Regions from separate parts of the Homo sapiens genome. Here region 1 is linked to region 2. Evidence: fine-mapped expression QTL. A gene starts in region 2. The other region holds a variant in brackets. All regions are shown on one strand. Distances are from middle to middle. Region 1 has its middle 40 kb from the start of CFAP144. Region 2 holds the start of CFAP144 (cilia and flagella associated protein 144).

The links. PIP is the estimated chance that this variant, and not a neighbour inherited with it, causes the effect. A credible set is the group of variants that fine-mapping cannot tell apart.
Region 1: its variant is the best candidate, but not a certain one, in a credible set for the expression of CFAP144 in iPS cells (iPSCORE, PIP 0.74).

What each region holds. Positions count from the first base shown.
Region 1 is chr1:43,104,809-43,110,188 of GRCh38, forward strand. No RefSeq gene overlaps it. Among named protein-coding and RNA genes, the nearest start is that of CFAP144, 40 kb to the right of the region's middle. The variant A/G (reference allele first, on the strand shown) is at 3,160.
Region 2 is chr1:43,145,853-43,151,232 of GRCh38, forward strand. CFAP144 (cilia and flagella associated protein 144) reads left to right here and starts at 2,052. Exons shown (of 4, transcript NM_001101376.3): 1 at 2,052-2,232; 2 at 4,909-4,968. The coding sequence starts at 2,100.

The DNA.
Region 1 (5,380 bases), 41 kb before region 2:
CACCCAGCTAATTTTTGTATTTTTAGCAGAGACAGGGTTTCACCATGTTGGCCAGGATGGTCTTGATCTCTTGACCTCGTGATCTACCTGCCTCGGCCTCCCAAAGTGCTGGGATTACAGGCATAAGCCACTGCACCAGACCTCTGAATTACAATATTCACCTCTTTTGCTGCTGTGTCTGTCCCACAGACCCTGCCCGATGGATGAAATGAGTACTCAGACACAGGTATGCAGTGTAAGAGCAGCTAAGTGACTGCCTGGCTCTAGTGGCCAGAGAGCAGCCCTGAGAAGCTGGAACTGCTTGCTTTTATTCAGTGCAGGCACAGTGTGGAAAACCTGGAGCCCACACAACCTGTAGGTAATTAACATTTGTAGTTCCCCTTCCAGGGTGTGTTATGCACATGGATAATCAAAAATCAGTTCCTTGTCAACATTAGTAAACAAGCATGTTTAAGATAAATTCCCCCACACTCTCTAATGGTGTGAAGTAGTATCTCATGGTGTTTTTGATTTGCATTTTACTGGAGGCTAATGGTGTTGAGCATCTTTTCGTGTGCTTGCTGGACATCTGCATATCTTCTTTGGAACAATGTCTATTCAGATCTTTGCCTACTTTTTCATTTGTTTATTTGTCTCCTTATTGAGTTGTAAGTGTTCTTTGTATATTGTAGATATAAGTTTCTTATCAGATATATAATTTGCAAGTATTTTCTCCCATTCTATGGGTTTTTTGCTTTCTTGATGGTGTCCTTTGCAGCGTAAAAGTTTTAATTTTGATGAAATCCAATTTGTCTATTTTGTTTGTTTGTTTTTGCTTGTACTTTTGGGTCAGATTTAACAAATTATTGCCTAATCTGAGGCCATGAAGATTTACCCTTTATTTTCTTCTAAGAGCTTTATTTTATGTCATTTATATGTGTGTGTGTGTGTGTGTGTGTGTGTGTGTGTGTGTGTGTGTGTGTGTGTGTATATATATTTTTTTTTTTTTTTTTTTTTTTGAGACAGTTTCCCGCTGCCACCCAGGCTGGAATGCAGTGGCATGAACACAACTCATTGCAGCCTTGACTTCCAGGGCTCAAGCAATCTGCCCTCCTCAGGCCCCCAGCTAGCTGGGACTACAGGTGCATGCCACCACATCCAGCTACCTAAGAGCTTTCTATTTTTAGCTTTTACATTGAGATCTTTGATCCATTTTGAGGTAATTCTCATATATTATGTGAGGTGGGAGTCTGTATTAGTCAGTTCTCACATTGCTATGAAGAACTACCTGAGACTGGGTAATTTATAAAGAAAAGAGGTTTAATTGGCTCATGGTTCCATGGGCTGTACTGGAAGCATGGGTGGGGGAGGCCTCAAGAAACTTACAATCATGGCGGAAGGTGGAGTGGAAGGAGGAACATATTACATAGCCAGAACAGGAGGAAAAGAGCAAAGGTGGAAGTGCTAAGCATGTTTAAACAACCCGATCTCATGAGAACTCACTATCATGAGAACAGTAAGGGGGAAATCTGCCCCCATGATCCAATCACCTCCCAGTGTGTCCAGAATTGGTGGGTTCTTGGTCTCACTGACTTCAAGAATGAAGCCGTGGACACTCGCGGTGAGTGTTACAGTTCTTAAAGGCGGCGTGTCCAGAGTTTGTTCCTTTTGATGTGTGGATGTGTTTGGAGTTTCTTCCTTCTGGTGGGTTCGTGTTCTCGCTGGCTCAGGAGTGAAGCTGCAGGCCTTTGTGGTGAGTGTTACAGCTCTTAAGGCGGCGCGTCTGGAGTTGTTTTTTCCTCCCGGTGGGTTCGTAGTCTCAATGGCTTCAGGAGTGAAGCTGCAGACCTTCGCAGTGAGTGTTACAGCTCATAAAGGCAGTGTGGACCCAAAGAGTGAGCAGCAGCAAGATTTATATCAAAGAGTGAAAGAACAAAGTTTCCACAGTGTGGAAGGGGACTGGAGCTGGTTGCCACTGCTGGCTGGCACAGCCTGCTTTTATTCTCTTATCTGGCCCCACCCACATCCTGCTGATTGGTCCATTTTACAGAGAGCCAATTGGTATGTTTTACAGAGAGCTGATTGGTCCGTTTTGACAGGGTGCTGATTGGTGCGTTTACAATCCCTGAGCTAGACACAAAAGTTCTCCGTGTCCCCACTAGATTAGCTAGATACAGAGTGTCAAATGGTGTATTTACAAACCCTGAGCTAGACACAGAGTGCTGATTGGTGCATTTACAAACCTTGAGCTAGATACAGAGCGCCAATTGGTGCATTCACAATCCCTTAGCTAGACATAAAGTTTCTCCAAGTCCCCACCAGATTAACTAGATACAGAGTGCAGACTGGTGCATTCACAAACCCTGAGCTAGACACAGGGTGCTGATTGGTGTGTTTACAAACCTTGAGCCCTTGAGCTAGATACAGAGTGCTGATTGATGTATTTACAATCCCTTAGCTAGACATAAAGGTTCTCCAAGTTCCCACTAGACTCAGGATCCCAGCTGGCTTCACCCAGTGGATCTCGCACCAGGGCCGCAGGTGGAGCTGCCTGCTAGTCCCACGCGGTGCGCCCGCACTCCTCAGCCGTTGGGTGGTAGATGAGACCAGGTGCCATGGAGTGGGGGGCAGTGCTCGTCGGGGAGGCTTAGGCCACACAGGAGCCCACGGGGGAGGGAGGGGGGCAGAGGGGTGGTGAGGGGCGGGGGGCAGGGGGTGGTGGGGGGTAGGGGGGCGGTGGGAGGTGGTGGGGGGGCGGGGGGGTGGTGGGTGGTGGGGAATGGGGGGGTGTGGGGGTGGTGGGGGGCGGGGGCGTGGATGGGGGGTGGGAGACTCAGGCATGGCGGGCTGCAGGTCCCGAGCCCTGCCCTGTGGGGAGGCAGCTAAGGCCTGGTGAGAAATCCATCGCAGCGCTGTGGGCCAGCACTGCTGGGGGAGCCGGCGCACCATCGGCAGCTGCTTGCCCAGGTGCTAAGCCCCTCACTGCCTGGGCCAGCAGGGCCGGCCAGCCACTCTGAGTGTGAGGCCGCCAAGCCCACGCCCACCCGGAACTCCAGCTGGCCCGCAAGTGCTGCGCGCAGCCCCAGTTCCTGCCCGTGTCTCTCCCTCCACACCTCCCTGCAAGCCGAGGGTGCCGGCTCTGGCCTTGGCCAGCCCAGAGAAGGGCTCCCACGGTGCAGC[A/G]GTGGGCTGAAGGGCTCCTCAAGCATGGCCAGAATGGGCACTGAGGCCGAGGAGGCACCGAGAGTGAGCTTTGGGGCTGCAAGGGCTGCCAGCACGCTGTCACCTCCCACCAGCAGGCCCCTCCTCCAGTACTGGGAATTACAATTTGACATGAGAGTTCAGCAGGGACACAAATCCAAAGCATATCATTCTGCCTGCGGCCTCTACTAAATCACATGTCCTTCTCACACCGCAGAATCCAATCATCCCTTCTCAACAGTCCCCCACATTTTAACTCATTTCAGCATTAACTCAAAAGTCCACAGTCCAAAGTCTCATCTGAGACAAGGTAAATCCCTTCCACTGATGAGCCTGTAAAGTCAAAAACAAGTTAGTTGCTTCCAAGATACAACAGGGGTACAGGTATTGCATAAATAAACCTGTTTAAAAAGGGAGAAATCAGACAAAACAAAGGGTCTACAGGCCCCATGCGAGTCCAAAACCCAGAAGGGCACTCATCACATCTTAAACCTGCCAAATAATCTCCTCTGACTTGATGTCACACATCCAGGCCACAATGATACAAAGGGTGTGCTCCCAAGGCCTTGGGAAGCTCTGCCCCTGTGGCTCTGCAGGATACAGCCCCCCTCAGCTGTTTTTACAGGCTGGCATTGAGTGCCTGCAGCTTTTCCAGGTGCACAGTGCAAGGTGTCACTGGATCTACCATTCTGGGATCTGGAGGATGGTGGTCCTTTTCTCACGGGGCAGTGCCCTAGTGGGGACTGTGTGGGGGCTCCAATCCCACATTTCTTCTCTGCACTGCCCTAGTAGAGGCTCTCCATGAGCACACCACCCCTGCAGCAGACTTCTGCCTGGACCTCCAGGCATTTCTATACATCCTCTGAAATCTAGGTGAAAGCTCCCAAGCCTCAACTCTTGCCCTCTGTGCACCCACAAATTTCTTACCATGTGGTAGCTGTCAAGGCTTGTGCCTTGCACCTTCTGGAGCAGTGGCCTGAGACATATCTGGGACCCTTTTAGCTATGGCTGGAGCTGGAGCAGATGAGACATAGGGAGCAGCATCCTGAGGTTGCACAGGGTAGTGGGGCTCTGGGTCCAGCCCATAAAACCATTCTTCCCTCCCAGGCCTCTGGGCCTGTGATGGGAGGAGCTGCTGCAAAGGTCTCTGAAATGTCTTTATGGCATTTTCCCCATTGTCTTGGCTATTAACATTTGGCTCCTCTTTACTTATGCAAATTTCTGCAGCCTGGCTTTAATTCCTCCCTAGAAAATGGGTGATATGGTTTGGCTGTGTCCTCACCCAAATCTCATCGTGAATTGTAGCTTCCATAATTCCCTCATGTTGTGGGAGGGACCCAGTGGGAGATAATTGAATCATGGTGGCAGTTTCACCCACAGTGTTCTCGTGGTAGTGAACAGGTCTCATGAGATCTGATGGTTTTATAAGGGGAAACCCCTTTCACTTGGCTCTCATTCTCTTCTCTTGTCTGCTGCCATGTGAGATGTGCCTTTTGCCATCTGCCATGATTGTGAGACCTCCCCAGCCATGTGGAACTGAGTCAATTAAACCTCTTTCTTTTGTAAATTGTCCAGTCTTGGGTATGTCTTTATCAGCAGCATGAAAAAGAACTAATACAATGGATTTTTCTTTTCTACCACATGGTCAGGCTGCAAATTTTCTAAACTTTTATGCTCTGCTTCTTTTTCAAATATAAGTTCCAGTTTTAGATCATCTCTTTGCTCACAAATATGGGCATAGGTTGCTAGAAGCAGCCAGGCCACATCTTGAACACTTTGCTGCTTAGACATTTCTTCTGCCAGATACCCTAAATCATCACTCTCAAGTTCAAAGTTACACAGATCCCTAGAGCAGGGGCACAATGCTGCCAGTCTCTGCTAAAACATAACAAGAATGACCTTTACTCCAGTTCCTAATAAGCTCCTCATCTCTAGTTGAGACCACCTCAGTCTGGACTTCATTGTCCATATCGCTATCAGCATTTTGGTCACAACAATTTAACAAGTCTCTCTGAAGTTCCAAACTTTTCCTCATCTTCCAGACTTCTTCTAAGTCCTCCAAAGTGTTCCAACTTCTGCCCGTTTTCCAGTTCCAAAGCCACTTCCACATTTTCAGGTATCTTTATAGCAATGTCCCACTCCTGGCACCAATTTCTGTATTAGTCAGTTATTGAATTGCTATGAGGAACTGCCCAAGACTGGG
Region 2 (5,380 bases):
AAGATAGTGTAGTGCTGTTGCAAGCTTAGACAAATAGACCAATGGCACAGAATAGAGTCCAGAAATGGACTTGCACAAATGGGGACACTTTTTTTATGGACACAGTAGCATAGCAGACCAGTGAGGAAGGACTATCTCTTCAATAATTTGCTGGTGGGTCAACTGGATACTCCTTTGGAAAGAAAAAATTAAGCTGGATTCCTACCTCACACTGCACTCGAAAACCAATTTCAGGTGGAATACAGATCTCACTGAGAAAGGGTAAAACAACAAATCCTCTTAAATATTAATAGTTCTGCCCACAGATGGCCATGGAGCTCTTGAGATGTGTTATGAAGTGTAAAATCTGCACTGGATTTTAAACATTAGTAGGACAAAACAATGTAAAATATCTCAATAATTTTTATATTCAAACGTTGAATCATTGACAAATTGGATATACTGAGTTAAATATCACATTATTAAAATTAGTTTTATCTAATTCTTGCTCTCTTAATGCAGATACTAGAATGTTTTAAACTACATGAGTGGCTCAGCTCATACTTTTATTGAACAGCACTGCTCTAAAAAGTAACATAAAAGTAACCTCAGGTCATCAAATTAGAAAAAGATGTCTTAAATGAAAATTAAGAAGCAATAATCATAAAGGAAAAGACTAATATATTTGACTACGTTTAACTTTTGGTGTCCAGAAGACACCATTAAGAGACTAAAATGGCAAGCCACACAGAGGGAAAATACATTTGCAGCATGTACAGCCCTCAAAATAATATATTAAGAACTCCAACAAATTGATAAACAATCCAATTAAAAATTTTGTTCAACACTGTGTCCCAGACTAAACCCATTCTGCAATTCACATTGTGTCCTGAGCGAATGAATGGATGGATGAATGAATGAAGTACTGAGTGGGGAAGAGCACAGTCTTCAGACAGTATTTAGGTGCTTACTAAAAATAGGGGTGGCTTCTTTCTTTATGCTAGACCTACTTTTTATTTATTTTTTATTTTTTAGAAGGAGTCTCGCTCTGTCCCCCAGGCTGGAGTGCAGTGGCGCAATCTTGGCTCACTGCAACCTCCGCCTCCCGGGTTCAAGCGATTCTCCTGCCTCAGCCTCCCGAGTAGCTGGGATTACAGGCATATGCCATCACGCCTGGCTAATTTTGTATTTTTGGTAGAGATGGGGTTTCACCATGTTGGTCAAGCTGGTCTCGAACTCCTGACCTCAGGTGATCCACCTGCCTCAGCCTCCCAAAGTGCTGGGATTACAGGCGTGAGCCACCGTGCTCGGCGATTCTTTTAAAATAAACTACATTATTTAAGGTATCTAGCAGACTCAAATTCATAGAAACAAAAAGTGAAATGCCAGGGGCTGGAGAGAAGGGAAAAGGGAAACTTGTTGTTTAATGGGTGTGAAAAAGTTCTGGAGATTGGTTTCACATAGTTTGAATATACTTAATACTACTGTACTGTAATACTTAAAAATGGCTAAGATGGTAAAATTATATTACGTGCATTTTAAACACAAACATTAAAAATAAACTATAAAGTCAACAAGTTCCTTAATTAGGAAAGGTTTATTCTGTCAATATTATCACATTGGTAATCTTGGTCACACTGGCCAGAACGTTTTCTCAGAGAGGAAACCTCCGGTTTTTTTGTGAGGTTTTGATTCTGGGCATCTGCTTTAAGGTGGGAGAGGTTTCTGACTCCTTCCAAAAGCTTTTTTAGGAAATGATTGGCCAAGGTGAGGTCCAATCATCTGTCCCTTACCTCCTGGGTCTGCCCCTTGCCGGGAAGCCCTTTCCTGGCGGTATCCAGGGGACCTTCTAGTAACCAGCCGGGCCTGAGGAGCTGGGGCAAGTGAGTACAGTGCCAGAATAGGGCGGGGCGCGAAATAAGATCCCGACCGGCGGGCGCGGGGCGGGGCGATGCAGGCAGGGTAAGGGGCTGGCAGAGTGAGACCCGCCCCGACCGGGCAGCACTACCCGAGCGCTGTTGCCTGGAGACCACGGGACGCCGTTGCCTGGAGACAGCGGGGACGCGTTGCCTGGAGACTGTGGAAGGCCCAGGCAAGAGGGCGCGTGGCAGCCCAAGGCCATGGCGGGACACCCAAAAGAGAAGGTGATTCCAGATGAGGTCCATCAGAACCAGATCTTGCGGGAACTGTACCTCAAGGAGCTACGAACCCAGAAACTCTACACGCAGTATCACGTGAATCCCCTCCGCAAGAGTGAGAGGCACGGCGGGGTGGGGGAAGGGCGAGAGCGGGAGGGCGCCGGGGAAGGAGGAGCCCTCCGGGTTGCGGGGTGGGAACGCGGTCCCAGCAAAAACTCTTTCCCCAGCACCCGCCCCCTTTCCTAGATTTCAGGAACCATGACTTTGGAGAGGCCACATCATATCAGATGTATTCGCTGTATTAAAGTTCATGCGCAACACGATTAAATCTTTTCGTTGTAGAAAAAAAAAAGTTGTAGGGCTTTTTATTATTTTACTTTTGAAATAATTATATTTTGCAGGCTGTTTGTGTTTTGTTTTTGTTTGTATTTTGGGTTGTTTTTAACAAGTGAAAGGTTTTTCTTCAGGCTTCTGATATTGCCCTTCGGAAAGTTCTGGGGTGCCCCCTGATAAAACATCCCTACCCTCCACTCTTGTCACTGAGCACTCTCCTTGGGCAGTTTGTTCTGTCCTGTCACACCAGCTTCCCCTGAATGCCACTGGGCCTGAAATGGAGCTTCAGATCCACACGCCCAACCACCTCACAGCTCCCCTCCCTGGACAACCCACAGGCACCTCAGACCCAGCAGGAGGAAAGCCAGGCTCATTCCCACCTTCCCCACTCTCTGCTGCTCCAGAATACCCTGTCTCTGCAAAAGGCCCCGGATGATTCACTCTCATGATCAGAATCATTCACTCTCATCATCTAATGATCTCATGATCATTAGAAGCCTCGGAGTCCTCCTCAAGGTCTCTCTCCCTCCACACACTTAAAAAAAGGCACAAGTCCTGTTTATTAACATTCCTCTCCCCTGACCCACTTGTTCCTGCTTCAGTGAAAGACACCATCATGCATATGGATTCCTCTCTGCCTCTGCTCAGGTACTTTCATGCTCTAAGTAGCACCTCAAACAGCCTCTGCCTGCATCCTCACTCCTGAAGCCTCTGCAGGGCCCTAGTCCTTGCCGCCTGGATTGGTCTGATGGGCTCCCAACTCCTTATTCTCTTTCCCTCCAAGCTGGCCCCTCCGACCAAACCCCTACACCTTTGCTAGCTTAGCACTATGCTAGGAGGACAATTAGATCACATCAATCCCACCTAAAATCCTTCTCATAGCCTCTGAGGTAAAGTTTAAATCAATCACGACATAAGGCGCATTGGATCTGGCTCTGGTTCCTGCCAGCTTCATGCCATACTCCTCTCCCCCACTTTACCCTGCTCCTTTAAGAAATACTTTGGTGCCTACTCTGCACCAGCCATTGCTGACGAATCCCACACACACTCCTTTCCCCCCTGCCATTTCTAAATACATGGATTTCCTAAATGCATCATGTCATTTCCCACTTTACCTGCATAAACATTGTTGCTTCTTCCTGAATGCCTCTCCCAACTCTGTGCCTAATATGTAAAGTCCACTTTGTTGCCTGGCTCTATAGAGAAAATGTACTGTCTTCACTTTCCTTCTAACTAACTTGGTTTTCTTCTGGAGTCCCCAACCACTAGTTTCAGGAAAGCAAATTAGTGTCCAAAGCCGTTCAAACTCGGTCCATTCCAAATAATGGAAATAATCTCTTCAGGCAACCTTCATGCTCTCTAGGGAAAATGCTGCCTCCCAGCTCATGTCCCTTGAGCATGTGAGCCATTGGAATAAAGTGAGAAAATATTACAACTTGTATTGATTACTTTTATTTATAAAGATAGAAATTTTATTTGCTAATATACTGATAATAGTCCATAAAAACTATATAATTATACATATTTTAAGGGCGCATGCTCTAAAGTTCTTTTACTGATAGGAGTTTGAGACAAGCAGCTTGGAGACCACTGGTTTCTACTGGTGTCTGCTCATTTCCCACTACTCTCCATCCAGCTCACTCCACTGGAGCCACTCTGGCTCTCTTGACGTTTCTCAAACTCCCCAGGCTCACGCTCATATGCTTCCCACACACACAGCACATTCCCTCACTTCATTCAAAACTCTGCTCATATGTATCTCCCTAGAGATACATCACCCACACCCCAGCCCCAACGCCAACTCTCCATCCACGTAACCTGCTTTACTGTTCTCTATCACACTTACATTTGCCGGGTGATATATGTATGTTTATTGCCTGTCACCACAAATAGAGTAAAAGCTCAGGGGACACAAGAGCCAGCTCTGTCTTGTTTACAGCCTGTTCTTCAGTGCACAGTAATTATGAGCTGAGTGGATGAATGTGGGTGCTGCTCCTCTGTTACCATGTGCCCTCCTGGGCATAGATCACTGCCTGGCAAACCTCTTTGGCCTTCCCCATAGGCCAGCACTGTCCAAGAGAATTCATCAGTGATGAAAATGTTCTCTGTCTTGGCTGTAGTCAAAACTGTAGCCATTAACCGCCTGCAGCTATTGAGCACTTGAAGTGTGACTAACGTGGCTAAGGAACTGAAGTGTTCATTGTAATTAATTTTAGTTATTCAAATTCAAGGAGCCACATGTGGCTGATGACCACCATTCTGGGCAGTGCCACTCTAGATTGTGAGGTTCTTGAGGGCCTTATCCAATCGTGCATTATCCTAGCACCCAGGATAATACCTGGCATGTACCAGATACTCAGTGAGTGCCAAATGGGTGCCCTGTTTAAGGTGGACCTTAGAGAGGGCAGGGAACTCATGTTTTAATCTGAACTTGTGAAGCTGTTTTCTTTTTTTCTAGTTCATACAGTCACCAGGAAGCCCATGTCTTGGCATGATAACCTGGAGGAACCTGCAGATGGTAAGTCCTGGGCTTTGAAATGCCATTGAGATAGAGCCCAGAGAGGCAGGCTGGCTGGAGAGACCTCTCAGGGTCGTGATATCTTGGAGCAAGCATCAGAGTCCTCTGCTTTGATCCTGGAAATGGGACTCATACTAACCAAGCTCAAAAAAGACGGATACTCAGACAGTCTGTGGTAGATAGAATAAAAAAAATAAAAATTTTTTTAAATAAAATTTTTAAAAGATGGACATACTCAATTATAACTGTCAAGCCAACTAACGTTCCTATTGACTTAACATTGCCTTCGTTCATTCATCAAACATGTAGATGTTATAAGCACAAGTTCTGAAGCTGTACTAACTCAGTTCAAATCCTGGTTCTGCTACTCATTAACTGTAACATTGGGCAGGTTTTTTACCTCTTTTAGCCT